Homo sapiens: one gene and its partners. The protein of the gene in region 6 purifies or fractionates together with the protein of the main gene of each other region. This does not show direct contact. Each region holds a gene or a part of one and is shown on either strand. Other genes may lie near its edges. The genes, in order: TBC1D9B, PREB, GNPTAB, CAV2, TM9SF3, S1PR4 and CMTM6.

Region 1 (4,276 bases), on a different chromosome or scaffold from region 6:
CTTGAACTTCCAGAACACAGCCAGGGCCCCATACTTGGCCTGGGGAGAAGTTGGGAGGCCTAAGCAGTGGTTGGGGGCCACAGCAAGGCATTGCACACAGTGGTTTTTATTTCTTTCAGGGATTTATTAAGGCATTGAGCACAGTGTAATTTCTAGCCAAGTGAAATGAATCCAAGGAAATATATCAGGACCTGAGGGATGTTTTTTTAAAGTTACTGGAAAGGATGATGAGCTGAGAGCACGTGTACAGCCACGCCTGTGCGCAGCGCCCACTCTGTGCAATAAACATGTTCTGCCCATGTTCCTCAGTCAGGAGGTTCAGGCTCCCGGAGAGCACCTGAGGGTTCCATCACTTTGGTGCCCAACAAGCACATGCCCCCCAACCTGGTGCCAAGAGGCAGGAATGACCCCCATACCACATAGCTGCAGGAAAGCATCCACGGATGGAGGGACTCAGCTGGCCTGGCCGCAGTGTGGAGCACAGAGGTATGAGGCAAGCAAGGGCAGATCTGAGAGCCTGTAATGCTAGGCAGGTGCAGCTGGTGCGAGGCGGGCTCCCACCAGGTGTAAGGAAGGTGGGAGCCACAGCCTCTTCCTGGGCCCAGAAGCAGCCGGCGCCAGGAGATGCAGGCCCAGGGAATCTGTCTAAGGCAGCTGGGTCTGCACCAGCCTTCTTTCCACTCACAACTCACTGCTCCTGGGAGAGCAGGAGGGGCACACCTTTAAAGAGAAACTGATAAGGGAGGAAAGGCAGGAGGAGATGAGGCCAGCCCCACTGATGACACCTTGGGCCAGGCCTCACAGCTGCAGGCATCAGCCGGAAACTCCAGGCTGCTCATGGTCACTGGCGGTGCTGAACTGTCTCTCCACTTTCTTTTGGTCCTTGATCTTGAGTCCAATGTCCACTCTCTTCTCAAAGAAGTTCACCAGCACGGACTCCGTCAGGATGGAGGCCAGGATCTGCTCAAAGGAGATGCACCAGTCGGTGTCGACGGTGCCGCCGATGCGCGCTGTGGGGCTGCAGGCCTCCCCGCCCACCAGCACCGTGTCGTCTGCAAGGTCTTCACATTGCAGGGAGCCCGTGCTGACCACCGAGTAGGAGGACATGGACATGTCGTCTTTGGTTTCATCGTCAGACAGCAGCTGGGAGGGTGAGCCCTGTCCCTCGCCGCTGCCCCCCTCCACCACCACCTGGCTCTCCTGTGGGGCTTTTCCGAGGTGTGTGTCTCCGCCTGCTTTGGCTTGGGGGTCTCCTGCAGCTGGGGGCTGAAGCTCCCTGGCTGCGTCCTGATGCAGTTCGGGTGCTGGTGGCTCGTCCTCCTCAGTGGCACAGTCCCTGGGCTTCCTGCCTGTGCGGGCTGAGAACTTCTTCCCCACCTCTCCGATGCGGAGCAGGAGGCTGGCCACGGTGGCGATGGCGTGGTACAGGTCCTGCTCCATGGGGTCTTCACTGAACATGTTGTAAAGCGTCTTGCACAGCTCAATGAACTGCTCCTTTTAGGGAGAAAAACAGAAGAACAGGGAGATGGTAAAAGACCAGTCAGACGGGGTCCATATTAGCCAAACTGATGACAAGCACCAGCCTAAGGATGTTGGCTGCCGTCTTGCTAATCATCTCCATGAGCCTCATCAGTCCCATCTCACAGATCAGGACACAGGCTCAGAGAGGCCACACAGCTCTTCAAAAGGCTTTCCCCTCCAGCTGCCTTTCTCTTGGCACTCAGAGCATGCTGGTCTGACCTGGGGCCTCCCTGTTTCTAGGTCCGTTCTGTTGGCACAGGGAGATGGATTTCTACCACGACTCTAAATCCAGTCAGTACAAGGACTTCGTTGTGTTTTAGAATCACCTTTGGTTTTAATCAGAAGCAGCCTCAACTCAGCCCTTGAATGAAGCTCTTTAGAAGGTGATGGTGAGGAAAATACAGCCTGGGTCAGCTGGGGAGGGGGATCCTGGGGAGGGGGGTGCTGGGGAGGGTGGGTGCTAGGTCCTGAAGCCACACGTCTAGGCCTCCTGGCCCAAGAATGGGAAGAATCCTCATCGCACGTGGTGCCCACCCTCCAGGCCTGCTGGGGGAGTGGTCAGATTGCAGGGTCCCCTACTGGGCACAGCTAGACCGTGGGTCTGGCCCGAGGGCCATGGTCAGGCTGGTGCTCCAGACTTGCCTTTGGCTCAACGCTTGCAGTTTGGAGCTGGGGTCTCCCATTTTCTGGCTTTGAGACCCTTGGCAAGACACCATGCTTCTGATCTGCGAGACCAGTGAATGAAGAGCGGGTGTGGAGGATGCATGTGAGCCTGCGTGTGCAGAGCCCTGGGCAGGGCTGGGAGGGTGCAGGGTGTGGAACGCATATCTTGTCAAAGGTAGCCTACAAGCCTCTGGCTCCTGGTTCACAGACACTCACTCAATCTGGAAACATGCCCCTATACAAGGCCCTGGAGCAACTGGCCTCTTGTCTTTCTGGAATCATCGCTGACTGGCAACCAGGACTAACGGGCTCTAGAGGCAGGGAGGAGCCTTCCCACCCACCAGGAGATGCTGCAGTGCAGGTGCGGTGATGTTAGGGCCCAGTCTTGGTCAGAACTCTCCAGAAATGTCTACTGTGGGCTCCAGTGGAGCCTACCTGGTTCATCTTGGGAAGATCCTTAATCGTCTCCTTCTGAGCCTCTTTCTCCTTGGCCCACATTCGAAGGTAGTGCCGATAGTCCGGAGAGCTGGTCCCCTTCTCCTCTGCAGGTTAGGAGGAAAGAGATTAATCTTTGTCATGTGAGACGGCTGCGGGCTGACAGCAGGGAGAGGAAGAGTTGGGTGTTTTCTGGCATGGAGTTACCAGGGCCCTATCATAAAACACCCTGGCGTTTGGGAAGGTGGTCATGGGAAAAAAACCCAGAACAGCCACAGGTTTTCCCTAAATTGCTGCAGTGGTTGGACCTAAGCTGATGACAATGATCCACAATGTCTTCTCTCAGATGGGGAGTCACAGGGCAGCTGGAGAGAAGCTGGCAAGAGAGGGCTGGCTGGGTGCCCGTGGGGCTGGTGGAGAGCGTGGAGCCTCCTGTGCATCCCGAGGCCTGCTCCCTGATCGGGGGACGCATCCGCCATCTCCCGGGGTAGGGGGCTCCCTGGCAGTGACTGGGGAAAAGACCAGCAAGCAAGGGTGCCTCAACGCTGGGGTCTCTAAGAACAGCGGCAGAGAATGGCCTGTACCTCCTCTCTCCTCACTTCCACTTCCTTCTTGCTCTTCCTGTGGTAGTGCTTCTGGACAAACGCAAAAATAAAAAGAACATGAATAACATTCTGCTGTTGGGACTGCAAGCTCCTGGGGTCCTTGAGATGTAGTCTGTGTTTCTGTACAGCCAGCCCCAGGCCAGGCCCTGGGGAGCAGGTCTCCCATGCCACACCTCCTGCCTGGCCCGCCCAGCCCCGCCCTATGGCACCAGAGCAAAAGGGCCTGAGCATTCCCTCACTTGGTCAGGTTAAAATAAAGGCCGCCAAACCCTCAATTCCTTTTTTCAAATGAATACAAGTCTCAACATGCTGGTTTTGACGTGAACAATGATGAGGGCTATAGACCAGTCTGAGGACTAACGAATTCTATAGTTCCTGCTAGAACTCTGGGGAATGTTCCTGCTAGAACTCAGGGGAACCCTAATGACCCCTTCCACCCGCGCCTGCTGTGCCTGTTACTGAGGGGTGGTCTGTGCACAGCTCCTGTGCTTGGTGCAGCGTTTCGGGGAGGACATTTGCCGGAACTGGCGCGCACTATACTCCCTGCGTGGGAACATGCACCTGGGGAGAGAAGCAGCCGACCAGCTCTCCTGGAGCTGTTCCCCAAAGGCAGTGTGGCTGGTGGGGGCACCTCAGGCAGGTCGGCAGCACCCCAGTTCTGAGCTGCTCTCGCTGGCTGTCTGGTGGCAGTGAAGGGCACACCTCTCTGGGCTCAGGCAACTCACCCTGGAATGGAGGCCCTGCTTCCTGGGGGCCACATGCGGTCTGAGGCCAGGGCTCTGCACCAACATGCCGCTCCCAGAAGCATGCGGGACAAGCCTAGAGTGGCCTGCTGGTTCCATGTACAACAGAAGGTGTACCTGCTTCTGTAGTTTCTGTCCTTGAAATCAAGGTCCTCAAGCTCAAGTCAGCCTCTGCCACTGTCACCAGGACTGCCATGGGCATCTTGGTACACACTATTTTTGGTTCTCTTTTGAGTCGGTTCCTTGGTGTGCATTATCCCCCATGTGAAACCACCAGGTGGCATTATGGTCGGTTTTGCAAGTGTGCTG
Region 2 (5,014 bases), on a different chromosome or scaffold from region 6:
GGACCCGAATGGAGTGAGCAAAGGGAGTCCAGGCCTCCACTCTGCTCTAGAGATGGCAGTGTCCAGGCTCCTGATTCCCAGGAAGCAGGGAAGCTAAAGGAAACCTGGAAAGGCACTCTGGAGCAGCAGGATGGTCACAATAATAAGCCCGACACACAGCAGGAGCAGGAGCCACACAGGAACACTCCCTGCAGGAGGGAAAGGGAGGAGGTCAGCGGGCAAAAGGGCTTCCCAGCCTGAAAACCAGAACCCTTCAAAGGAGGAGTGGCACAAAGAGCCCAGCCTCCGGGGGGCACGTTTCTGGTCATTAAACGTGGGGTGGTGCCTGCCTGCCCTGCCCCAATGACTCACGCCGTGAGGGCAACAGATGCAGCTGGCAACGACTGTCCACAGCCACAGAGAACAGGGCAGTTTCATGGGACCCAAGGAGCTCTGGACCACGACCCTTCTCAGGTAGAAAGGCCACATCCGTCACCACAATGCCATGGGCCTCCCTCACGTAGTAGAGGCACTGTGGGCAGAAGGAATACCAGTGAGGAAAGGCCTAGCTGGGAACTCTCTTTCTGGAAAGCATGTTCCCCACCCCCAGGATTTCCCTCGATAGGATGGGCCAGACTCCTTCCTGCAAACTCAGGGTAGAGACAGGCCTACAGTCCACCCACAGGGCCATGCCAACCTCCACCCATTACCTGGAGAGAGAAAGCTATGTAGATGGCAACAGAGCCAGTGACTGTGCCCAGGCCTAGGAAGGTGCCGGATTCACTGCAACAAACAATAAAGAGCTCATTGTCCTGGAGGCTTGTGCAGCAACCCTCATACCCCAATACCGGTCCGTAGGGACCCAGGCAGGACTCCTTTCCAAGCTCCCTCAGGGACCCCCTACCTAGCCAAGGCAGCAATGTCTCACACCTGACATCGAGGCAGGAGACGACTTCATGGCCACAGGACTTGGTCCGAAGGGGCAAGAAGTTGGAGCCATCCCAGGCTGTGAGGTAGCAGGGAGGGGGCTGGCGCAGGCGCTTGTGGGGAATTTGCACTGTGAAGAGTCGCAGGCCAGCAGGCTGGTCTGGAACCTGCCCAAACCTGGGGGCCGGATGAGGGGCTATTCAGCTCCTAGGGCCTGCCCAACCCTCCTCAGAGGTTTGTGCACCACCTGCACCCTGGTCAGACCTGGGGTAACACTCAACAAGTTCCTCCCCAGCTCTCCCATCCCCAGTCTTTTCCCTCTCCCCCACCACAGCTGGGCTATGCCTCTTTCAGCCACCACCCAAAGTCTTCACACCTGCAGGCCTGGTAGCGGTAAGGTGTGCTGGAAAAGGTGGGTCCATTTTCTTGCCAGTGCAGCTGTGTCACCAGCTGATCCTTCTGCCACACAGAGGCCTTAAGGTCCCGGCCCACGGTTACCAACTAGTTAGGAATAAAGATTCCAAGGATGGACAGTTAGGGGATCCACTTACTGGGCAAGCAGCATAAGCACCTCCTCTCTCCTTTCTCCATCCTCCTCCCACCCCCAGCCCCTCACCTTGCCATCAGGCCCTAAAGCCAGGTCTTCAATCTCCCCTTCGTGGGCTTTGAACTCCAGAACCTTCTCCAGGCTGGGCACCTGTAGCCAAACAACCACCATGGTTAACTCAGGTGTCCAGCAAGTACACTGTGACTGATGCCCACGCCACCCCTTCTAATGGCCCCTCAATGCAAGCTTCATTCACAAGTTTCCCAGATGCCACGTTCAACTTCTCACAATTTTGATCCTGTTGCTACTGACATTCACCCTCCCTAACCCTGCAAACCCACACCTTCCAGACACGGACGTAGCCATCTGTTCCTCCAGTGGCAAGCAGGGTATTATCGTGGTTGAAGCACACAACTTTCTGCAGTGGATCGGAGCTAAAGTCTGTCTGCACCGCCTGCAAATTCTCTACCCTGAGTTCTAGCCCCTCGTGCTGGGTTTCCGCTCCACATTTCTTCTCTGCTGGGGCTGCTCCCTTCCTTTGTCGAGGCCCCTGCTCCTTGGAACCTGTAACACAAACACTTGGCCAGGTTCCAGGCTTCTACAGTAAGGAGTACTGGCCCCTCTCTCCATGGCAGGTGCCCATACAACTTCTAGCTTGCTACCAAAACCCTACTTCCAGACCCACTTCTTTAGAGACACCAAGAGTGACCTTACTCGTTCAACCCTTTCCCCAAGGGGGTAGAGAGGGAGCTCCTCACCGGCCTTCTCTGCCTTGTTGCCCTGCTGTTGATGTGCCTGGAAGCGCAGGAGCTGACAGTGGGCATCCTGCCCTGCAGCAAGGATGTCACCAGCCAGTGCCAAGTTCATGGTGGCCCGTGTCTCTGTGTCATGGGAGTGCAGCAAGGAGGCACTCAAGCGCCCATTAATCAGCTCTAGCTGCAGAAAGTGCTGTGGGAGGGGGAACCCGGATGAGCAAGTTCAGGGGTGCCCAGAGAGCACGTTTAGGGAAGAGTCTGATGTCTTACCCCTTTGCTTTCTGCACGTTCTAGTTCACAAGGGTTTCTCGAGTCTTTTTTCTCTCATTTGGGCCTCACAAATCTACACAGTGAGCAGGACTGGGATTATTACCTCTATTTTACAGAACAGGGTGAAGCTCAGGAGAGGGAAGGAACTTAGCCTAAACCCAAATGCACCACTCTCGCCGCTGCTAGAGGGCAGGCAAGACCTCCCGGAAAAGGCCAGTATAAGACCCCTGGAGCTGCTCTGAGGCGGAGCTGAAGCGTTCCTGGCGACTCTGCAGCTGTGTGCAGTTTTCACTTTACCTTAAAAGCCTCTCCTCCGCCCGCTGAGTTCTCGACTGAAATTCGCCCCTGGGCGTCAGGCAAGCGGGTCTTCCCAACAGAAGTGGGCAGGGCCCGAAGCTGGAGTGTGGCCCGCCCCGCGACCCCCCGGCCACCCTGGAATCGCCGCCAGCCCGCAGCAAGACCCAGCCCCAGTGGCCCTGCGCTCTCACCACGCCATTCTTTATGCCTGTCTTGGCGGCGCCTCCTCCGCCCGCAGCGATGAGCAGCCCAGTGCTGGGGTCGACCTGAAGCGCGTACAACGGGAACGGAGCCCGGTACAGCTCTGGCGCCCGGCGCCGGCCCATCCCGCCCGGCGCGCGTTCACTGCCCGCACCGCGGCACCCAGGACATGCCGCGCCGGGCCTTCGACTACTGCCCCGGCGGCTGGTGAACTCGGCCCCGTCGCCGCCGGGAGCACTCCCTACCCCTCTCACACCGGGGAGTTGCCAAAACCCTGACCATCAGCAGGAAGCCGAGCCTCAGCTCGGCTCCGTCCAAGTCGGTCTCGCAGACGCGCACTGCGCATGCGCACCTGTCTCGCGGCTCCCTCCGCGCAGGCGCAGGAGCGCCGACACGCGTCAGCACTAGCCGGCCGCGGGGCCGCGTTTCCCGGGGCGGGGCTTCGGTTCTCCACCCCTGGCGCGGAGGCAGAGTCGCCCAGCACCGACTTCGCCATTTTTGTGCGGGGCGCGGGGCGCGGGCGGAGGAGGTGGAGCCAATGGAGGTTGATGAAGGTCAACCTTTAATAAAGAAATCCGACTCGCGCCTGTAATCCCAGCACTTTGTGAGTCCTAGGCGGGCGGATCAGGAGTTCGAGACCAGCCTGACCAACATGGAGAAACCCCGTCTCTACCAAAAATACAAAGGGCGTGGTGGCGTGCGCCTGTAATCCCAGCTACTCGGGAGCCTGAGGCAGGAGAATCACTTGAACCTGGGAAGTAGAGGTTGCAGTGAGCCGAGATCGCGCCATTGCCATTGCTCTTCAGCCTGGGCAACAAGCAACAAGAGTGAAACTCCGTCTCAAAAAAAAAAAAATCCTCTGCCAGGCACGGTGGTTCATGCCTGTAATCCTCCTGTAATCCCAACACTTTCGGAAAGTCCGAGAGAGGAGGATGGCTTGAGCCCAGGCTTTCGAGACAGCCTGGGCAACATGGGGATCCGTCCCTACGAAATATTTAAAAATTAGCCAAACATCGTGGCACCTGTGGGCCCAGGTGCCCAGGAGGCTCAGGCGGGAGGATCACTTGAGACTGGGAGGTCGAGGCTGCGCTGGACCACCAGTGATGTCACCACTGCACTCCAGCCCCTGGGCAACAGAGCTAGACCCTGTCTCTCACACACATAAAATCCTCAAATAAGGACTGTTCCCATCTGAGGAGTGATATGCCAACTCCTAGGAGCACAGGCCTTTGCATCTTACCTCAGAGAGGAAGTGATTTGCCCGAGGGCACACACCAGAAACCACCGGAGTCTCTTGCTTCTTAACGGAGGCAGCATGAACTTAAAAATAAACCTGACTTCAAATGCTGAATCCATTGCTTCCTCGTATGAGGACACGTCTGTCATCCTTAACGCCTATCGCCCACTTTTGGCAGGGGTGGTGTCTGCCATTCCCTTTCTCAAGGCTTCACACTCCTGGGCTGGTGGCTTGGTGGGTGGCCAGCTGCTTTGCTGGCCTCAGAGGGGGCAGTTTGGCTCCCGGGCAGGTATCTTCTGCGCCTGACACTCCATTCTCCCTCGGGTTTCTGATCTGATGAGGACCTTTGTGCACTCCTGAGAGCGAGCACAAGGGATGTCCTTCCCTGCAAAGAGACGCCCTCTCCTGCATTCTCATTAACCTAAGGTGCACCCAGAGGAATAGCGCAGTGGCTTCATCTTTGGGGATGCCAATATCTGTCCCACAGAGTTGAATTAGATGTGTGAAGGGCCTGGCCAAGCTCTCTGCATATCTCAAGTCCCCAGGCCTTGTGGGTCCCTTGTCCTCCTTGGATACATGGCACCTGCTCTTTCTGGCCTCTCCGTTTCCTTTGACACCACCCTCCAGGGTCTTTTTTATTTTTTGAGACGGAGTCTCGCTCTGTTGCCCAGTCTGGAGTGCAGTGGCCTGATCTCAGCTCACTGCACCCTCCACCTCCCAGGTTGAAGTGATTCTCCTGCCTCAGCCTCCTGAGTAGCTGGAACTACAGGCACCCGCCACCACACCCAGCTAATTTTTGTA
Region 3 (3,757 bases), on a different chromosome or scaffold from region 6:
AAAAAAACTAAAACACAGAGTGACCTTTTCTATAGGATTTGAACAAATGGTTCTGACCATCTGACTGCTCATCAACTTCTGAGGTTCCTCTGTTCTAATGATTCTACTGAATCACAGAATCATTAGAATGAGTCTATGAATAGCCTATGATTGTATTATCCATCCCATTATCAAGCTCCTAATTAGGTATGGACTATATTCATCTAACCACAGAAATCGTCATTACAGACAAATGTTCATTTCTCTAACTTTTCTAGAATAAATCTCAGCTTTTATAATGATACCCAGATATCCTAAATTTTACCATATGATAAATTCCATTTAGAAACTATTTTCCCCCCATAAAGCAACATTCTTCTGTATAATACTAATCTTTCCTTACTTTCCACTTAATTTTAGTAATGTTCAGCACAGAACCTGATACACAGTAAAGGCACTCAAGTGACTGCTGAATCTGAGTAACAGTAAACTCAATCCTCAAAGATTTAAAAATCAAAGTGTCAGACAAAAATTTAACTTTTTATGAGATTTCAGTTTTTGAAATACACAACTCTTACAGCACAAACACAGTATTTACATTTCAAGTTCTTTGTACAAAAGATGTATGCCATTTTGGAAGAATATTGTTGAGATCATGATCTAAAATACCTGTCAGAGTTACTCATGGAATCTGCTCTTCACAAATCCATTGTATTATGACATAAAATATGGCTAGACGCCAAGGTTTAACCATACATAAAAATACTAATTCTCGGCTGGGTGCACTGGCTTATGCCTGTAATCTCAGCACTTTGGGAGGCAGAGGCAGGTGGATCACCTGAGGTCAGGAGTTCAAGATAAGCCTGACCAATATGGTGGAACCCCCGTCTCTACTAAAAATACAAAAATTAGCAGGGTGTGGTGGCATGCACCTGTAGTCCCAGCTACTCAGAAGGCTGAGACAGAACTGCTTGAACCCGGGAGGCGGAGGTTGCAGTGAGCTGAGATTGCGCCACTGCACTCCAGCCTGGGCAACAGAGAGAGACTCTGTCTCAAAAACAACAACAACAACAACAACAAAAACTAATTCTCAGTGATTGGCAAATGATGGCCTGAGGGTCACATCTGGCTGGTGGGCAGTTTTTGTACAGCTGCAAGCTAAACATGGTTTTTACATTTTTAGAGGGTTGTTTGAAAAAAAACAAACTAAACAACAGCAAGAAGAATGTATGACAAAGACACAGGTGGCCTGCAATAATTTACTAACCAGCCTTTTACAAAGAAAGTTTGCTGGCCTCTGTTCTATCAAAAACCAACTGAGAGAGATAGCTACTGGAATATACCAATGAGTATTAAACAAGACACCACTGTAATGTGCCAGTGCCATCAGCACTACTCATTTCTAAAATGAGGCACTTCTGTTTGAATATGTACATTTCCAAAACATAATTACATCTGGTAAGTAGTACTAACTCTAGCCCTTTGAAATTAGACCTGCACGTGAAATCATAGCATTCTTAGGGGCTGAAGTCAATAATTACAAAGCATTTCAGATGTCAATCATTGAGCTCTTCAGTAGTTAGTGGTTTAAGACCATTTACAGTCTTAAATATTAATAAAACTCATAATTTAGGTATTGTCAATAAGAGGTGATATTGCTGCATTATTTAAATAACATCTATAAAAATAGGTTTAGACATCCCAATTCGTTATACTCAGAAGCAAGAATAACTAGTTAACTTAGTAACTACTTAAAAATGGGAAATGAAAAAAAAAAAGTGCAAAACTTTAGCAAAAGGCTTTGGAATGCAAAGACTGGAGCCTCTTAGCAATCACTCCCAGCTGGCATAGGCTTCTCCTAATAAAGTTAGTCTGCAATGATTGCTGTGGGAAATTAACAGCTGTCTCTTGTCAGTGAGCCTTTTTATAAAAAGGATGACAGGTCCATGAGCAAATTCTTTAAAAGTAAAATCAGTTCAGAGCTGCTCAACACACAAGTTTTCAGTGGGTTGGTTAAATAATTCCTGGTCAGTGGGCTATATTCATGCCACAAAACAGCATGGTACTGGATATTTTCCTTCTTCGGGCCAAACTGCTAAGCATCACATCACAAAGACATCTCTGTGAAGCTGAGTTTTAAAATGCTCAGTAAATGCTGAGGTAGATGGTTTTCAAATGAAGATCTTCTATACTCTGATTCGATTGGGACTAGCTTCTTTGTGTATCCTCCTTCTGGGAAATATCTTCCGCTTAAGTGCAATTAACTAAATGATGAAAGACAGAAAATACATTTTAATTCTCACGTTGATGAAAGAATATAAGTGCATCAAACTTTCTAAGAGCCATATGACCTTAATCATTTCCACAATCTTATACATTAAAAAGACAACAAACAAATCTCCATCATTCCTCTTCCAAAACAAAAACAAATATTAGTTTTGTTTAGCTTTGTAGGGACAGTATGCCTAGATATGTGCCCACAAAGAGACCCAAGAGGATTAAAATTATTTCGGCCCATGCTTCATTTTTCTAAGACCTACAACTACAGATTTTTACACAGCTATTACCAAAGCATATTTATTTTCAAGATGTCCATTTGTCAAGTCTTTCTATTGAAGGAAACTGGCTCTATTTAGCCATAAGACACTGTCTCTGGGTTGATATGATGGCTTATTCCTTCATCTGTAGGAGGAGGCAGGGCTTTGCCCAAACATAAGACACCACGGTTTGAATGATGAGCTGGAATTTGGGAGGGGAGGAAGAGGCAGCATTGGCTGCTTTGTTTGTGAAGGTGGCAGGTATGGCAGGAGGAAGGAGTTTGACTCCAGTAGAGAGCAGAGTGTTGGGATTTAACCTGCCCTTCCCTTCCCTCTTCCTGCCTCTCTAGTTCCCTATTCTCTACTGGTATAGATAGACTGGTATAGATAGAGGAAAGACTGCCTCTCTAGTTCCCTATTCTCTACTGGTATAGATAGAGGAAAGACTGACACTCCTCTTCCTTTCCATTAATGGCTGCTCCTTTGAGTCAGGGCTCCTTTCCTTCCCCATCCTAGGTCAGCACAGCAGACTCAAAGGTTTCTCACTGGACCCTGTTCTAAAAGCAGGTACAGCCTTTCTGAGATTTTTCATAAGACTTTTACCTGCCAGGAACAATGGTAACAGACATCAAGAACAAGATGTACAATCCCTGGAAAGCAGATGAAGGTTAAGTTGCTGTCCTGTTCACCTGCCCAGTCTCTGTTTCCTGAATTTCCTTCCATTTACAGCAAGAAGCCCATTCATTTATCCTGAAGCTCTCAGTACTTAGGTGCTTGTCCTTCTTGGTATAAGTCAACTTGGTGTACGTTTCATTTGAGTGACAGCTAGAAAAGCTCCACTCAATAGTCACCTTGATTGGAGGCAGAGGCCAAGTCACTTGCCACACCCAAGTCAGGTTGGTAAAGATGCCCATTCCCCTCCTTCAATCCTTTTTCTTCAGAGTATTTGATATGTGAATAGCCTAATGAGGACTCTCTTATCCCTTTCTCTTTACCTCACAAATCTCCCTCCGACTTCTGGACACTCACCTCAAGGAGGCTGCGTGTGTACATGCATGCAGAGGAAAGCCCAGGTGTAGAGGGGCTGACAAGGAGAGGAGGAAGGAGGAGAGAGGAGGGAGAACTCCTAGCGATTGAAAGAAAGATAAATGGGAGCTACTGGTGTGAGTGGGACAACACAACGGAACCGTGGGATGTCTGAAGACACTGTGCTCACTCAAGGAAGCGTGAAAGAGAGGAAG
Region 4 (3,928 bases), on a different chromosome or scaffold from region 6:
GAAGCTCCTGAGAGACCATTTAGTTCAATTCTTTCATTAACGATAAGAAAACTGAGAACCCAAGATTAAACCCTTTGCATGAAGGGATACACCTCAATAACGGCAATGCTGAGACTGGAATCCAGTTGCCTGACTTCTAGGGCAGGGCTTTTTTCACTACACTCCAACAACTTTCCAAGAGAGGCATCAAAATAAATTAATGGGATGTGGATGACTATCAAAAAGATGAATTTTTAAAAGTTCCTGAAAACTATAAAGAACATTTTAAAAAGCCAAGCACCTGCTTTATTATTATAGGTTGGTCGTTTTTCCAGATGAACTGACAAGAAAATGTATGCCAACATCAGCAACTACTCTTCACATACTCACTTTCCAAAAATAATTTTGGACTCTAGTCTAGCTTCATGGTACAGGTATCCAAGTGCCTGTGATTTATATTGTTACTTTCTTATTTTAAAAATTGGAAACAAATTTCAGTTTATTTAGGATTAGCAAGAAGAGACTATAAAAAAGAAGAAGTATGGTGGGTGTGTGAACAGGCTATTTTATACTATTCATCAAATGATAGAACATTTATATGGAACCTCTTTAAGTGCTGGAAAACAAAGAATTCAACTACTAATGTAATAATTTTTAAAAATACATTCCCAAATAAGCAATAACTAATGTATTTATTATCTATTTTGAGTTTTTAATAAGGTAAAAATAAGTATGAAAGATTCCATATTTACTGTAATAAAAGCAATACACACATTTGTAGGCTTTTAGAAAATTTATTATGAATTCCGAGAAGTCTGCTCATCATATACCTCCCCCAGCCCCAAATAAAACAAACAACATGTTTGTACATAAAGCCTGGATTTACTTGGTACAAAATTTGAGTCTTTGAAAAAAATAGTTAATGGAAAATCTCAATAAAAATTCATTTTGAAAGTAACCAGTACTGTTCAGAAATAAGGAAGTCATGTTACTTGAGAAGTCAAACAGTTTTATTACAGAACTATGTGTATATATTTTGGGTTTAAAACTTGCCAATAGCTGTTTGAAAGGATAGCTCATAATTTATTCAAATAGATATTTTATTAATCAAATGTTTTTGGTTTATCAACATAACCAAATGTATAAAAAATGTTTTTAAATACAAGACATAACTATAAAGTCATGAGGCTGATTGACCTTTTAAACTAACATAATAAAATCTATATGGTCAAAATGAGTGGTGATGCTTTAAGGTAATGATTATGCGTCCCATCTAAGGATGCTGCAATGGCCTAGGGCAGTTTTGAAATGTCTCTTTGCAACTACCTTCAAAAGGATATGAGCTTCATAATTTAATCATTCATTTGATTTGGTCCCCAATATTATTCCAGTTCAATCATCATTTATATTCACCAGTCCTGGCGATTTTGAAAAATCTTATTAATCTTATTTGTCACTTATTAGCGTATTCAAAGGAATGTCAATTGAGGTTCTGATGGTAATTCTGAAATTTAAGCATTTACACACTTTTAAGATGTGTAAATTTTAGTAACTACTCACATTATAGACTTGTTTTTGGTATATGTCTATCATTTTGAAATAATGAGATTTTTCTTTTTTCTTTTTTTCTTTTTTTCTTTTTTTTTTTGAGACAGACTCTTGCTCTGTTGCCAGGCGGGAGTGCAGTGGCATGATTTTGGCTCACTGCAACCTCTGCCTCCCAGGTTCAAGCAATTCTCCTGCCTCAGCCTCCCAGGTAGCTGGGACTACAGGTGCATGCCACCATGCCCAACTAATTTTTTTGTATTTTTAGTAGAGACGGGGTATCACCATGTTGGCCAGGATGGTCTTGATCTCCTGACCTCATGATCCACCCGCCTTGGCCTCCCAAAGTGCTGGGATTACAGGGGTGAGCCACCATGCCCGGCCCAGAAATAATGAGATTTTTCAAAGCAACAGTGATTCATCACACTGAAATAGGACTCTACAGTTCAAAATGACAAGAATAACTTTATCCTGTGTTACATACCAATATTAGAGAAATCTTAAAAGTTTGTAGCTGTTAGTTTTTAGTTTATGCATGTAGTTCAGTAGCCCAAGTTGACAACTCCCCTGTCTCTCTACATGAATCACTGTAGTTGAAATTGTACTAAAGTATCAGAAGTAACATTTACTGTAAAATGTTAAATAGCACCAATATTACTTGAAAGTAAAGTGAGACATTAATAGGAATGCTGACACAGATTTAATTTCTAACTACTAGAGAGAAAGCATCTCCTAGACAAAATACTATTTAGATATGAATTATTTTAAGATCACAGCCAGAAAAATGTCATAAAACATTTTAGATTTTGCTTGGAAAAGTTAGAAAAGAAAGCTTTGTGTATCGCTCTTTTATCTTTTATTTCCAAAGAAGATGTACAAATGCTTACATAATCAGAACAGTGCAATCTTACCAATGAAGTTTACCTTGTGGGAGCTACATTTACTTATTTCATATATTAGTTCAACAACATAAATATAATAAAAATGCTTTTAAGCAATCTGATTAGAGCAACATTTATATTAACTACAAAATATACAGTAAAATGAAACATCTTGTTAAATAGGCCTGTAGGAAAACAATATTTTAAAGGAATACATTTTCATGAATCTACTTTCATATTTATTTGTTTTATTGTATCTTATAGTTACTATAATCGTTGTGTGCTTTTGTTACTGCAATTTCCAGGATCATTGTATATTCTCAGTATGCCAGTGACTATATATGTAAAGGTAATTTAAAAAGTATTACTCCCAGAGTAAAAACAGACAAACAAATAAGAAATCTCATTTTTAATGGGAAGTTGTGCATAAAACTATTGTAGTATTTTTATAGAAATGTCCCTTAATCATTATAAGTTCATCATTATAAAATGTATACTATTGTACTAAAGCAAAACTGTCTGCCTTTAAATCTAAGTGGTGTCAACTTACTGTATAATTCTGGTTACAAAGTTAGATATGAAATCTTTGGCTATTAATTAGAAAAGCATTATTTGAAAAGACCTGTCAATAAACATTTCTAAATGTGGTTGCTCATCTTAATAGTTTTCTTAATTAGAACAGCTAGGAAATGAACAGAACAGTGGTGCTTTTATGTTATAATAACAAAGAAGTATTACAGTATCCCAATCTCCAGACCTGGGGTCCAAGTATTCAATCCTGGCTCAGTTGCAGGCTGACAGAAGAGAAGCATCGTCCTACGCTCGTACACAATGGAGCAATGATAACATCTGTCACACTCTTCCATATTGTCTGCACTGAAGGCAGAACCATTAGGCAGGTCTTTACAAAAGGCATTAAAATCCTGGAAGGAAGGAAGAGAGATGTGTGAGGATTGTTGCTGTTACCAAATAAGGTCTGTCTTGTACATGTATGAAAAGATAAAATACTGACCCATTTACTTAAATTTGGTTGAGAGTTTGAAACAAATAAATGAACAATGATCACTGATAATGATTTGGGTTTTTTGTCCCCCTGACTCTCATTTTGAAATGTAGTCCCCAGTGTTGGAGGTGGGGCCGAGTGGGGATAATTGGATCACAGCGGGTAGATCCCTCATGAATGTCTTAGTGCCTGCCACCCTCTTGGTAACGTGAGTTCTCACTCAGTTAGTTTGCTTGAGATCTGATTAACTAAAAGAGTCTGGGACCTCCACATTCTCTCTCTTGCTCCCTTTCTTGCCATGTGACGTGCCTGCTCCTCCTTCTCCTTCCACTATAAGTGGAAGCTTCCTGAGGTCCTTGCCTAAAGTAGATGCTGGCACTGTGCTTCCTGTACAGCCCGCAGAACTGTGAGCAAAAATAAACCTCTTTTCTTTATAAATAACCTAGTCTCAGGTATTCCTTCATAGTAATGCAAATGGACTAAAGTGATAAGATGCACAAAAAATATGTTGCCTAAAAAT
Region 5 (4,276 bases), on a different chromosome or scaffold from region 6:
CAAGTGAGAGGAGGCCAATTCAGGCTACCGGCATTCTTCACCTACTTATTTTCCAGCTCTCAGAAGAATCTCACTGCTACACTTACGTCATCCACGCTGGCCAAAACGGTTTATGATATTGTCTTCCTCCCCTTTTCTGCTTCATCTTTGTGTGTGTGTGTGTGTGTGAGACGGAGTCTTGCTCTGTCGCCCAGGCTGCAGTGCAGTGGTGCAATCTCGGCTCACTGAAAGCTCCGCCTCCCAGGTTCACGCCATTCTCCCGCCTCAGCCTCCTGAGTAACTAGGACTACAGGCGCCCACCACCACACCCGGCTAATTTTTTGTATTTTTTAGTAGAGACGGGGTTTCACCATGTTAGCCAGGACGGTCTCGATCTCCTGACCTCGTGATCCACCCGCCTCGGCCTCCCAAAGTGCTGGGATTACAGGCGTGAGCCACTGCGCCTGGCCCCACTTCATCTTCTTTCGTCATTCCACCAAATTTAGAATGCCCTCCTTTTCTCCACTTAGCCAAACTCTAATAATCCTTCCGAAATGCTCAAATCCTCCTTTTTCAAATCCTCAAGTAAAGCCTTAACTCACCAAACCCTAACATGACATGATCTCACCATTTTTGTAATAATAACATCAGTAGCTAACAATAAATACATACTATGAGCTAGGTATAGTTCTAAGGTCTTTATATGAACACTTAAATAATCATCTCAAAATTCTATAAAATAGGTCCTATTACTTCCCCATTTTACAGACTAAAAACAAAAACAAAACTAAAGAACAGAGATGTTAAGTAATTTGTCCAAATCAATCAGCATCAAGTTTAAAAGGTTAGTATTTTTGCTAATCCCTAGTCAGCTTCATTCATTAAAGAGCAAAAAACTAAATCAAGGAAATATGAAAACAGTGCCAGGTGTACAAAGCAACTAAAGACAGTCCTGAACACTGAATAACTTTTCTATGTGAGCCTTTAATCTGCCTGAAAGAAAAAAAACCTTCTAAGAAGCTATTTGCACTCTAATCTCAAAAGGAATGACCTTTATTCTCAAGAAGTCACCAATGTTGGGCCCCTCTTATTTAAATACTGTTTATGTGTTGGGGGGGTACCAAAGTTTTCCTCCTTGACAGAGGTAATGAATTAATTATTATCAGGAGAAACGCTTTAGAAGATAATATGCTGACGTGGTCATGTGAAATCTGAATAAGAAATCACAATTTACATAGATGAGCAAAGGACTGAGGGTTCAGAACAAGCACCCAAATGCTATCCTTCATTTTCATACAAAGGGGGAAAAATATATGTGTTTACTTCAAAATAATGTTCCAGAAATCATAATTTCAAAACCTTTAAATTATTAAAACACACATCAGAATTCTAATACAAATAAATTAGAAATGTAATTTTGAATAGTCTCTTGAGATAACTACTCTCTCTCAAAAATAGCTTTGTACCTAAATAAACTTTCAGTCTATCATTGAGTAGAGCTGAAAATAGGACAACGAATTACGGCATTTAACAATCTACATTAGATAACTCACAAATTCACTTATAGTAAACAGCTTATACTCTTTATAAGTTTTCAGTAAGTTTTAAGAGTTCCTATACTCCCAACAGAGACAAAGACAAAAGGTTTCCATTTGCCAAAGTAAATCAAACAAAACATTTCTGAAATCACTCCGTGATATAATACAAATTATTTATGAGGCAGAGGCTGAGTAAACGATTCTAGTAGGCATCCAGTCTGTCCAACATTAGAAGTCTCAAGATTACCAGAAGTACACTGGGCCACAGAGAAATAGGGAATTTTAGCCTAGGTAGGACCCCCAAATCAAAACAGAAGACTATGCATCTTAAAGGAATAACGGCCTCAGTTTGTTCATTGTGCTTCCACACTGCATATCCTTGTCACTAGTAGCTCCCTAATTATTCAAGTCATTCAACAAGCACTCATCAAGTACTATTTGTGCCAAGCACAGTGCTTGCGTATATAACAGACCAAAAAAAAAAAAATCTGACTTTGTGATCTTGTTAAGGAAACAGAACCCATAAAAATTCAAGGCTACAGTGCAAACTATAAAATGCTCTAAGATTCCTGTGCCCCTAAGTACTGGGTTTTTGCTGCTAACATCTTTACATATTATAACTATGGAATTACATGTAAAAGACAGGTAGAAAAGACAAGACTGGCGATCAGGAAGCTCTGATTCTTTCTGTGGCCTTGAGCAAGTCTCTGAACCTGTACAGGCCATTAGGAAAATGAAGAGTTTTGGATTAAATTATTGAGTCTTTCTAGTTCTAAAATTCTATGATTCTCAATCTGAAATTGTTTTTAATGGAGTCCTTCGGAATCTTAGGAGACATAGTAATCTAACTCTAGATGCTTCCAAGTGCTTTGAGTTTTAGAAAACCAAATAAGCATAAACATACCTTTCACTGACTATAAAGAAGCCTATGTCCCTTCAATCAGTTATTAAAAGCCTGTCTTCCACAAAAGTGTTAATTTTCATTTCAAACAACATGTCTGTAATGCATATGATTCAACTTTTAAAAATTAAAAGGAACACATTTTTACATATTCTAGATATGTACATACAGTCAATAGCACATTTCCTTTTCAACACTCTTCAGAGAATATTAAAATAACTTTGGACAAATAAGCACATAAAATATATACATATATACCATAGGGTCAGGCGCAGTGGCTCACACCTATAATCCCAGCACTTTGGGAGGCCGAGGCAGGCGGATCACCTGATATCAGGAGTTCAAGACCAGCTGACCAACATGGAGAAACCCTGTCTCAACTAAAAAAATACAAAATTAGTCAGGCACGGTAGCACATGCCTGTAATCCCAGCTACTCAGGAGGCTGAGACAGGAGAATCGTTTGAACCCGGGAGGCGGAAGTTGCAGTGAGCCGAGATCACGCCATTGCACTCCAGCCTGGGCAACAAGAGTGAAACATAGTCTCAAAAAAAAAAAAAGAAAAAAAAGAAAGAAAGAAAGAAAAAGAAAAAAAAATACCATATGGGTCAGATGGCCACCTGAATCCTAATTCAGTAGGTACAGTAAGAGATATCAGGGGCTTTGGGGAATGGGCATAAGGTATTGTCCCTTCTTAGGACAAGCTATATAATTTGTGCGACCCAGTACAGAAAAATACAGAGCCCCTTGTTAAAAAATTTAAAACTTCAAGATGTTACAGGATAGCATGAAAACAAGCTCTCACACAGTCTTTTGTGACTATTCAGGGCACGTGCCCATGAAGTCAACACTATTGCTCCTTAATGCTAACCCAAAGATCTCAGAAACAACTCATCATGGAGCCACACTCATTCGAGCATTTAAGCATTTAAGCACTTAAAAATCAATATAGAGAACCACTCAATACCTAGTGCTTTACTGTCTTATTTTTAGGATAAAGGGGAATAGAGCATATGGCGGCTCACAGTGCAGAAGACTATCAACTCAGAATGCCTAAGTTCAAATCCCACCTCTACCCCTACCAGATGTGTGTTATCTGCAGGTGACCTCACCTCTCTAGATTCACTTTCCTCATCTACAAAATGGGCATATTACTCACCTCGTAGGTTATTAATAGATGAGTTAATAAGTGTAAAATACTTAGAACAGTGCATAGCCAGCAGGGCATGGTGGCTCACACCTGTAATCCCAGCACTTTGGGAGGCCGAGGCAGGCAGATCACCTGAGGTCAGGAGTTCAAGACCAGCCTGGCCAACATGGTGAAACCTCGTCTCTACTAAAAATACACAAATTAGCCAGGCATGGTGGCAAGCACCTGTAATCACAGCTACTAGGGAGGCTGAGGCAGGAGAATTGCTTGAACCCAGGAGGCAGAGATTGCAGTGAGTGGACATTGTGCCACTGTACTCCAGCCTGGGTGACAAGAGCAAAACTATGCCTCAAAAAAACAAAACAAAACAAACAAAAAAAAACAGTGCATAGCCCATTTTACTACAAAAGACATACTAGGTATTATCTGGAAACAATCTTCACAGGCAATTAACCTAAAAGGCCAGCTTCAGCTTCTAAAAGTTATTGTTTGATAATTCAATTCTACATGTATTTACTAAACACCTACTCAGCAACTTCCCCACACCAATGTCTCCTCTTCCTTTAGTATTATTCTCTCTTTACTAGCTACTTCTGCTTCTTTGACAGAAAAAAATAAATAAAACTCACTTGACATTAGCCTTTTCGGTACTACTATCTGGCTAAGAGGAATAGGAATGCCTAGTTTTTGAGAAATATTTTCAAGAAAT
Region 6 (4,076 bases):
TCCCCATCGTACAGTGGAGAAATAATGACTTAAAGCAGAACTTTCTGAGCCCAGGCGGCGGGTGGTGTGGATTCTGACTCTGCTCAGACACTGGACTGGACGGGACTGGCTTGGTCCTGGGAGAAGGTGGGCGAGAGCTGTCTATGAGCTGCAGGTGCTGGAGGCTTCCGGATTTACATCTGCACTGAAACTGTGGCCACCCGCCCCATGGGGCTACCGAAATATAAACAGATTCAAATTAAACACAACCTACACTTCGAAATTCAGTTATCTGCTTGCACCGTAGCCCCGTGGGGCTGGCGTCTCCCATACTGAATGGTGTGGAGCTGAAACGTCTCCACTGGAGTTTCACGGGGCAGGCAGTTGTCAGCCCCTGTGGCTGGCGGGGAGCGTGTACAATCAACCCTGTGCTTCGGCTTCAGTGATTAAACTGTTTTACCCACCGGGAAAGCCGAGGCCGTTCATGCTGAAGGGGATGTGAGGGAAGATTCCCCCAGCCCAGGAAGCCAAGGTGGTGCCTCTGCCAGCCCCAGAGAGTGGGTCCCCAAAAGATGCAGAGGCCAGAGATGGGGCATGGGCCCTGCCATTTCTAAAGGGGAAGTGAACAAGAAGAGGCGGCATTAACTGTCATTGTCACCCCCACTTCCCGCAACGCCCAGAGGTTGTCCACACACACACACACACACACACACACACACACACACTCCACCCTCACAGGGCACTGGCCCGTGGCCCTCTCTAGCAAAGACACACCCGGCTGCCCCTAGATCCACAGCCCCCCTGAGCCACGGCCCCCACGCATGCACGCACCAGGGAATAAGAGGCCGCAACATCACGTACCATGATCGAACTTCAATGTTGCCAGGGCATGCATCCCACAGTCCACCCCTTGCAGCCTGGGAGCCCTACTGAGGCCCAGAGAGGGGCCGGGACTTCCCCAGAATCACACAGAAGCGGGGTTGTGGGGAACCCACTCGCCCCCACACCAGGGTGCTCTCTGCTCCTACGGGGAGGTGGGGTGGTTGCCTCCTTGTCCAGGGTGACCATGGGAAGCCCATTTGGCGTCAGAAGCCCCGAGAGGCCACCGGGAAGACCATGGGGGCCTGTCCCGTTCCCTGCTCCCCATACAGGCGAGGCTGCGTGCACACAGCTTCCTGTACCCCAGGAGGGCCTGCCTGGCACGCACCCGGTGGCTGCACCATCCACACGCAAGACTGCAACTTCAGATGCTCCGCACGCTGGAGATGCTGGACAGGGGCTCCCGCATCCGAAAGCTGAGCGAGCGGGAGCCGCGAAAGCTGTCCCTTGGCCTCAGAGAGCTGTCGGTGGTGGAAGCTCCGGAGTGAGCCTCGACGGCCCGGGCCAGGCAGTCCCCGGGCCCTCGCATGCCCAGCCGGAGACACCCGCAGCAGAGGAAGCTGAGCACGGCTCTGCACACCTCCCTGCTGCGGAAGGAGTAGATGATGGGGTTGACCGCCGAGTTGAGGACGGCCAGGGCCAGGATCCAGTCCATGCCCCGCAGGTACTCCTGGGCCCAGAGGTTGGAGCCAAAGACGTCGGCCAGCAGCAGCCCGAAGAGTGGGCCCCAGCACACCAGGAAGGCCAGCAGGATCATCAGCACCGTCTTCAGCAGGCGGCGGGCCTTGCGGCGGGCCGCTGGGCGTGGGGCCTTCTGCCCGCTGGCCTGCACCAGGCGGAAGATGGCCCCATAGAGGCCCATGATGGTGGCCAGGACGCCGGCGAAGATCACCAGGCAGAAGAGGATGTAGCGCTTGGAGTAGAGGGGCAGAAGGCTGGAGCAGCGGTCAAAGGCGCACAGGCAGTTCCAGCCCAGCAAAGGCAGCATCCCCAGCAGCGCGGCCAGCAGCCAGCAGAGGCCGATGAAGCCGTAGACGCGGCTGGTCTTGGTGGCCCCGCTCTCGGCCACCGGCCGCACCATGGTGGCAAAGCGCTCCCCTGCAGTGAAGAGCAGGCTGAAGGTGGAGGCGGCCAGGGCGGTGAAGAGCAGGCCCTCCCGTAGGAACCACTGGGCGGGCGCCAGACGGAAGGTGCGGGCCCCCGACAGCAGCACGTTGGCCAGGTAGGCCGCGCCCGTGAGCAGGTCACTCAGCGTGATGTTCACCAGGCAATAGTAGACCCAGCGTCGCGACCGCATGTGGCTGGTGATGGCCGCCAGCACCAGCAAGTTCTCCAGCACCACCAGGCAGCTGGCGGCCACCGACAGCCCCCGCAGGGCCCCCAGGCCGCCATCCTCCGGCCCCCCGCGCCCGGCCAGCCGGCCCGAGTGGTTGTAGTGCAGAACAATGAGCCGGCTGTGCCCGCCGGCCGCCAGCTGTTGGCAGGACTCGGGGGCCACCGGGGTCCCCGTGGCGTTCATGGCCTCCCCCGGGGGCTGACTGAGGCCCGACGCAGGGTGGAGCCACCCGCCTTGCTGGTCTTGGTTTCCTGTTATTTGAAATTTCCTGTTATGTTCAAGGTGCCCTCCAGGGTGGAGGTAAGGCCGAGGACAGGGAGGGGCACCCCAACGGTCGGCCCCCACCCGGGCTCCTGGAGCCAACGCGCTGGGGCTGCCCTGGCTGTGAGGACCCCCACCCCTGCCCTGGCTGCCTTCTTCCTGTCCTCGAAAGCCGGAGACCCGCAGGGAGCCCCGGAGCCGTCAGTCACGGAGGGGAAATGAGTCCCCACTCGGGATGGGCCACCCCTTTCCAGCCGGACGACTCCTCCCCACCAGCCCTGATCACCCCCGAAGCACCCGTCGGCTCCACTGAGGTCTCCCCACATGCTCCACCGGCGCTCAGCACACAGCAGGTGCCTAATAAATGTCAAGTGCCTGCATGCCCTTGAGCACTGACTCATCCGACTTGATCCCCGAAACAGGGCCTGATGCGTTACAGAAGAGGAAACTGAGGCCCAGAGAGCCCGGTGCGTTGCAGAAGGGGAAACTGAGGCCCAGAGAGCCCGATGCGTTGCAGAAGGGGAAACTGAGGCCCAGAGAGCCCGATGCGTTGCAGAAGGGGAAACTGAGGCCCAGAGAGCCCGAGGCGTTGCAGAAGGGGAAACTGAGGCCCAGAGAGCCCGAGGCGTTGCAGAAGGGGAAACTGAGGCCCAGAGAGCCCGATGCGTTGCAGAAGGGGAAACTGAGGCCCAGAGAGCCCGATGCGTTGCAGAAGGGGAAACTGAGGCCCAGAGAGCCCGATGCGTTGCAGAAGGGGAAACTGAGGCCCAGAGAGCCCGAGGCGTTGCAGAAGGGGAAACTGAGGCCCAGAGAGCCCGAGGCGTTGCAGAAGGGGAAACTGAGGCCCAGAGAGCCCGATGCGTTGCAGAAGGGGAAACTGAGGCCCAGAGAGCCCGAGGCGTTGCAGAAGGGGAAACTGAGGCCCAGAGAGCCCGATGCGTTGCAGAAGGGGAAACTGAGGCCCAGAGAGCCCGATGCGTTGCAGAAGGGGAAACTGAGGCCCAGAGAGCCCGATGCGTTGCAGAAGGGGAAACTGAGGCCCAGAGAGCCTGATGCGTTACAGAAGGGAAAACTGAGGCCCACAAAGGCGGCCTGAGGCCAACTTTCTGCCCATGGGAGGACACACAGGTCCAGGGAGAGAGACCCCCAGGGACAAGCTGGTAGGGTCTCGGGGCCAGGCGCCCATTTTGGGATTCATGGTTGCCTCTCCTGCCCCTGAGCTCACCCTGCTGGGAGCAGAGCTGCTGGCCCCCTGGGGCAGCCCCCCACTGGGATTGAGGTGCATAGGAAAAGTAGGGACTTGCTCACCCCATCCCCATGGCCCTGCTGACAACGGCTCACGGTGACTCAGCCTGAGGTGAGGTGGCTGTGGGTCTAAGTGGGAGACACACCCTGCTCTGGCGTCTGAGGAGGGAGGCAGGCTCTGCCCTGGCGTCTGAGGGGGAAGCTTGGACCTGCCTGGGGTCTGAGGGGGGAGGGTTGGCCTTGCCCTAGGTTCTGAGAGGGGAGGCATGACCTTACCCTGGGGTCTGAGCGGAGAGGCTCAGCCTTGTCCTGGGGTCTGAGGAGGGATGCGAGGCCCTGTGCTGTGGTCTGAGAGGGGAGACACACCCTGCCCTGG
Region 7 (4,707 bases), on a different chromosome or scaffold from region 6:
TGGGGGATGCTTAGGGTTTTAACAAAACTTAGGTCATATCTAAATGGCAGACACAGCTATGTTAACTTCAAGAGATAGAGAAGTTACGTTCTTTTATCTCTAATCTCCTCTGTGTACAGGCTCCACTCTCTATCCCTTCAATATTCAATTCAGTTCTGTAATAGCAAACCCCATGGAGCCTCAGAGGTTTGAAAAAAAAAAAAAAACCTTAAGAGTGCAAAGAACCTCAGAGGTAATTCAATTCAACCTCCGAAGACTCTAATGTAAGAATTTCCTAAGTATATACACAATGTCTGGTTTTTAAGTTTTAGAGCAGGCTTTTCTCTTGTAGGATCTTTGAGATTCTGTTAAGATTTATGGGTCCAGAATAATATACTCAAACATATAAGTGTACAATATTTTGAATAAAATTTCACAGGGTTTGCAGGTCCCTTGTTAAAACACCTCCTCTTCTGATTACGGGTTTCTCCATTACAGTTGTTTCCTTACTGGAGCTCGCAATTCTGTTTAGTTTTTTAAAAAAATTAAACATTTAAAGTAAAACAACCAATCTATCTAAAGGAAGAATTTGAGTTAAGGCAAAGACCTTGCCTATAGCCCCAGGCTGGAAGACAACTTTTACCGACTTCATATGTAACCTTCTTGGGACTTGCTGGATAATTCCTGTAATATACTGTTACTGTGAAGAGATAAGACATTATCAAAACAAACAAAGGAACAAAAAGACAACCATCAAAGTGAAAGGCAGTAATGAAAAAGTACTTTTAAATCTCCACATTAAAGAAAGCATTCCTGTAACATGACAATTTCCCCATAAACAAATAAATGGATTTCATAAAGAGATATTAGTTTTTATTTTTTCTCCATTTCTTCTTATGAATGATGGAGAACTAATAATAGTCTAACGATCTTTTAAGGCAAATTCATCTTCTCTGTGTCCAAGTATAACATTTACCACAAAAATTTCTGGTTGTGTTCCATGTTTTCTTCTATAACAGCAATAAGGAAGGAAACTGGTTATGTTCTATTCCAAAGATACGAAACTACAGTTTACTAAACTATAAGAAGGTAATCAGAAAATTTACTTTAGCTTTGCCACTTTTTATTAGAAAGAAAATAATAAAGGCAACTGAAAACAGGAGATTTTGTGGGCAGCAAACCAATACAGATGATTTTTTTCGAGCAGCAAGAATGCTTCAGATGGGCTGGGCGCAGTGGCTTACGCCTGTAATCCCAGCACTTTGGGAGGCCCGGAGGGCGAAAATCACCTGAAGTCAGGAGTTTGAGACCAGGCTGGTCAACACGGCGAAACCCCGTCTCTACCAAAAAAAAAAAAAAAAATCAGCCGGGCATGGAGGTGCGTGCCTGTAGTCCCAACTACTCGGCACGAGAATTGCCTGAACCCGGGAGGCGGAGGTTTCAGTGAGCCGAGATTGCGCCACTGCCCCCAGCCTTGGCGATAGAGCAAGACTCGGTCTCAAAAAAAAAAAAAAAAAAAGCTTCAGATGAATATTCTTTTCTGTTCTAAAGAGTTCTACTATTCACGTAGAAAATTTTAGCTTTACTGCAGAGAAATACAGCTAATACCTAAAAATCATCATGTGACAGCTGACAAGAGAAGAGAAGGAAGAAGGAAGAAGGTAGAAGGAACAGCTTATGCAAAGGAACAGTGGCAGGAAAGAGCCCCTGATGCCTCGTAATAAATTAAAGGTGGCCAGTGTGGAACCACCTAGAGGGAGACTGGGAGAAAGATAAGGCCAGATCCTACTGGGTTCCATAGGCCACATTATCACTTGCTTTCAAATGATTTCCCAGTCATCAGCAGATGTGATCATTTTGATCGCTAAACAGCAGTGCCGATTTTCCGACTTCTGTTTTTCTATTCAATAAAAGTAGGTCACTAGAGTTCTAAGAATTTAACTTCGGGTCATTTGAGTTGTAAGAATTTAAGTTCTTTCCAAGGAAACCAATGAGCTAATTTTTACTTAGAATGGTTAAAAAACAAAACAAAGTAAGACAAAACTCATAAACATCATAAGCATTCGGATTTTTCCTAAACTGGTTCTATTGCAGAAATAGAACCTAAACTGTTTCTATTTTTCCTAAACTGGTTCAACCATCAGTGGTTGGAACAGTACATAGGAGCCAACACGACTGTAAAGTGAATAATTTAAATCTCAAAGATGCTTTGATGTTTTCACGAACAGGTTTATGGTACTTCAACTGCTTAAAATAAACTCAATAAAATGGAAAGATGCATACCATGTCCTAGTTCAGCTATCCGCACATACTTACAAAAAGCTGTCCTTTTGACTTTCCACTTAGAACCCATATTGCTCAATTTTGAAATAATTCTTTTCCAGTCAATATAAAACTTTTAGAAGACAATTTACCGGACACACATACACACACATCTCAATGCCACGCGTGGTATCGCAGGACTTTGTCCAGCAAGTTAAACTGCCCCCATGGGCTCGCAGCAGGAAAACCGCAAGAGCCAGAGAAAGATAAACAGCGCTTCACAGTCTAAATACAGGCACTGTGGGCGATAATGCAGGGTAGCAGCAGAGAGAAGAGAGGAAAGTCGCCATAGAGGATGAGTGAAAGATGTTGAAGTGGCTGACTTGGGTCTCCGACGCATTTCCTGAGCCCGCCTAACAGGCTGGGTGGCCCCAGTTCGTGGGATCCCGATGGGGAGAGCCTTGGGACTGAGGGGCCGCCCGGCGGAAGGGCGGAGGGTAACGCCCCCTTCCCCAGGCTGAGAGGGAAGGAACTAGAGGTGTGGAAACCTCCTTTTACTGAACAACCAAGCTGAAACGAAGGAGCTCGGCGGCCTCCCAAGCCCGGGCCAGACCCCGCTCCCCAGCCCGGGCTCGCCCTCCCTGACCGCGGACTCACCAGCTGCAAGCCCTTGAGAACGCGCCGGAGCAATGGGAGCCGGCCCATGAAAAAGTAGGCAGCGAGGCCGCTCCGGGGGCCTCTGGCGGGGCCCGGGTCCTCCTCCGTAGTGGGGCTGTACACCGCTCCGTTCTCCATCGCCTCGGGCCGGGGAGCGCGGCGGCCGCAGCAACCGCGCCGTTGACTTCTCGGACTCCAGAAGTCCCCGGTAGCCGGGAGGCGGCCGTCACTTCCTGGGCCTTCTCCCCGGCTTCCGCCTGACTCCGCCCCTTCCCGCCCCCGCCCTTGGCCCGCCCCGCCCCCTCTCAGCAAATTTGCTTGTTAGCTGTTGGGATTCTTCCGACTTTCATCCAAGAATTGAGTTCTTTCTGTGAGCCTTTGATGGATTTCTCACCTCCCTCCATCTTTCATCCTCCTGACATTCATTCACTTAGTATTTTTGCGTACTTTCGGTGTGCAGTGAACCCCGTTCTAGGTACTTGGGTGACAGCCAAGTACTACCCAAAATCACAGGATCCCTAGTAACAGAGACAGACAATAAACAAGAAAACAGATGGATAGCAATTTCAGATAGTGATAAGTGACGTGAAAATATGATACGAAAATAATGGATTCAGCATTTCTGGTGGCTTGATAAATTTATTAAAAAAAAAAAGAAGATGGAGGAGGAGGAGAAGAGGAAGGAGAAGGAAAAAAGGATGGAGAATTGGGTGCTCTACTTAAATGGCCACTACTAAACTGAGTGGTCAGGAAAGGCCTCTCTGAGGACCATGATCTTTGAATTGAATGAGACTCAAAGTGTGAGAAGCCAGGCTTGTAAAGTTCTGGGGAGAGCCTTTCACGAAAGTGCAAATGTCCCGAGGACCAAATGAGTTTGACTCAATCTGAAGCCCAAAGGCCTGTGTCGCTAGGAATAAGTACGGGAGGAAAGGAGATGTTGGAGATGTAGGCAAAGGCCAGATAATGTGGAGGCCTTGCAGACCAAGGGAAGAATTCGTATTTCATTTGAAGTACAATGAGTTGTCTGTAAGGACTTTCAGAATCGCTCCCTCCCGCGTCTCCCGAAATTCCATTTAGGCTCACTTTTCAAAATCATTTCCTTTTTCTCTTTCTTGGTCACCAACTGCTACAGTCACATATGTTAATTTTGTGTGAACTTGTCAAGGAATGTAATTATATTTTAGCAACTGAAGTTGATTGAGTTACAGGATGTTCACAACAATATAAAGTAGGTTCGACAGTATAAAGTCGGTTACATTCATTTTCAAATGAGAAAACTGAGGCCAAGAGGCTGAAATCATATCCAAGGTCAAACAGCCAGGAGCAGCTGGAATGCAGGCCTAAGCAGTCTGACTCGAAACCTTGCTGCTAAACGCTAACCCAGAAAACGTCAGCTTCTAACTCATCTCTCCATTGGAGTCTCAAAACCCATGGAAGAGAGAAGGGGTTTCTGCTGCCATCAGCTGCTACATCTTCTCCGTGGCCCCAAACCTCCCTTTCTTCTTCCAGTAACAAACAAAAGCTCCCATTCAAATGAATAGAGACAAGTAGATACTGCCCTGCAGGGGCCACCTACAACCAGCCAGAACTACCCTTCTGTCTCTGATTACATGCACTCTGAATGTCCTCCCAAGGCCAAGATGCCACCAATTCTGTCCAACAAGGAAGGCCACTGTATTTTCACCAGGGCTACAAGGATTCATTGCCCCATTATTCTTCAAGTCACTATCATCCCAAATTAGACACTACTGATGTCTAAAAGTTCCTTTGAAATTCATCCAAAATTAAGATGAGTTGATGACTAGAGAG

The links.
Region 1: the proteins of S1PR4 (region 6) and TBC1D9B purify together in Homo sapiens (affinity purification with mass spectrometry; one large-scale study listed by BioGRID and IntAct). This does not show direct contact.
Region 2: the proteins of S1PR4 (region 6) and PREB purify together in Homo sapiens (affinity purification with mass spectrometry; one large-scale study listed by BioGRID and IntAct). This does not show direct contact.
Region 3: the proteins of S1PR4 (region 6) and GNPTAB purify together in Homo sapiens (affinity purification with mass spectrometry; one large-scale study listed by BioGRID and IntAct). This does not show direct contact.
Region 4: the proteins of S1PR4 (region 6) and CAV2 purify together in Homo sapiens (affinity purification with mass spectrometry; one large-scale study listed by BioGRID and IntAct). This does not show direct contact.
Region 5: the proteins of S1PR4 (region 6) and TM9SF3 purify together in Homo sapiens (affinity purification with mass spectrometry; one large-scale study listed by BioGRID and IntAct). This does not show direct contact.
Region 7: the proteins of S1PR4 (region 6) and CMTM6 purify together in Homo sapiens (affinity purification with mass spectrometry; one large-scale study listed by BioGRID and IntAct). This does not show direct contact.

The regions. Positions count from the first base shown.
Region 1 is NC_000005.10:179,862,635-179,866,910, forward strand, and holds part of TBC1D9B (TBC1 domain family member 9B), read right to left. Parts: intron 3,255-4,276; coding exon 3,204-3,254; intron 2,727-3,203; coding exon 2,620-2,726; intron 1,495-2,619; coding exon 814-1,494; 3' UTR 1-813. UniProt on the Homo sapiens protein: May act as a GTPase-activating protein for Rab family protein(s).
Region 2 is NC_000002.12:27,131,321-27,136,334, forward strand, and holds the start of PREB (guanine nucleotide-exchange factor SEC12), read right to left. Parts: upstream 3,317-5,014; 5' UTR 3,102-3,316; coding exon 2,967-3,101; intron 2,402-2,966; coding exon 2,212-2,401; intron 2,018-2,211; coding exon 1,797-2,017; intron 1,604-1,796; coding exon 1,523-1,603; intron 1,408-1,522; coding exon 1,283-1,407; intron 1,084-1,282; coding exon 910-1,083; exon of another isoform or gene 884-909; intron 763-883; coding exon 690-762; intron 512-689; coding exon 352-511; intron 189-351; coding exon 94-188; 3' UTR 1-93.
Region 3 is NC_000012.12:101,744,999-101,748,755, forward strand, and holds the end of GNPTAB (N-acetylglucosamine-1-phosphotransferase subunits alpha/beta precursor), read right to left. Parts: intron 2,244-3,757; coding exon 2,166-2,243; 3' UTR 501-2,165; downstream 1-500. UniProt on the Homo sapiens protein: Catalyzes the formation of mannose 6-phosphate (M6P) markers on high mannose type oligosaccharides in the Golgi apparatus.
Region 4 is NC_000007.14:116,505,371-116,509,298, reverse strand, and holds the end of CAV2 (caveolin-2), read right to left. Parts: intron 3,329-3,928; coding exon 3,178-3,328; coding exon of another isoform or gene 3,140-3,177; 3' UTR 758-3,139; downstream 1-757. UniProt on the Homo sapiens protein: May act as a scaffolding protein within caveolar membranes. Interacts directly with G-protein alpha subunits and can functionally regulate their activity.
Region 5 is NC_000010.11:96,580,117-96,584,392, forward strand, and holds part of TM9SF3 (transmembrane 9 superfamily member 3 precursor), read right to left. Parts: intron 1-4,276.
Region 6 is NC_000019.10:3,177,094-3,181,169, reverse strand, and holds S1PR4 (sphingosine 1-phosphate receptor 4 precursor), read right to left. Parts: upstream 2,402-4,076; 5' UTR 2,378-2,401; coding exon 1,223-2,377; 3' UTR 838-1,222; downstream 1-837. UniProt on the Homo sapiens protein: Receptor for the lysosphingolipid sphingosine 1-phosphate (S1P). S1P is a bioactive lysophospholipid that elicits diverse physiological effect on most types of cells and tissues. May be involved in cell migration processes that are specific for lymphocytes.
Region 7 is NC_000003.12:32,499,710-32,504,416, forward strand, and holds the start of CMTM6 (CKLF-like MARVEL transmembrane domain-containing protein 6), read right to left. Parts: upstream 3,144-4,707; 5' UTR 3,037-3,143; coding exon 2,899-3,036; intron 1-2,898. UniProt on the Homo sapiens protein: Master regulator of recycling and plasma membrane expression of PD-L1/CD274, an immune inhibitory ligand critical for immune tolerance to self and antitumor immunity.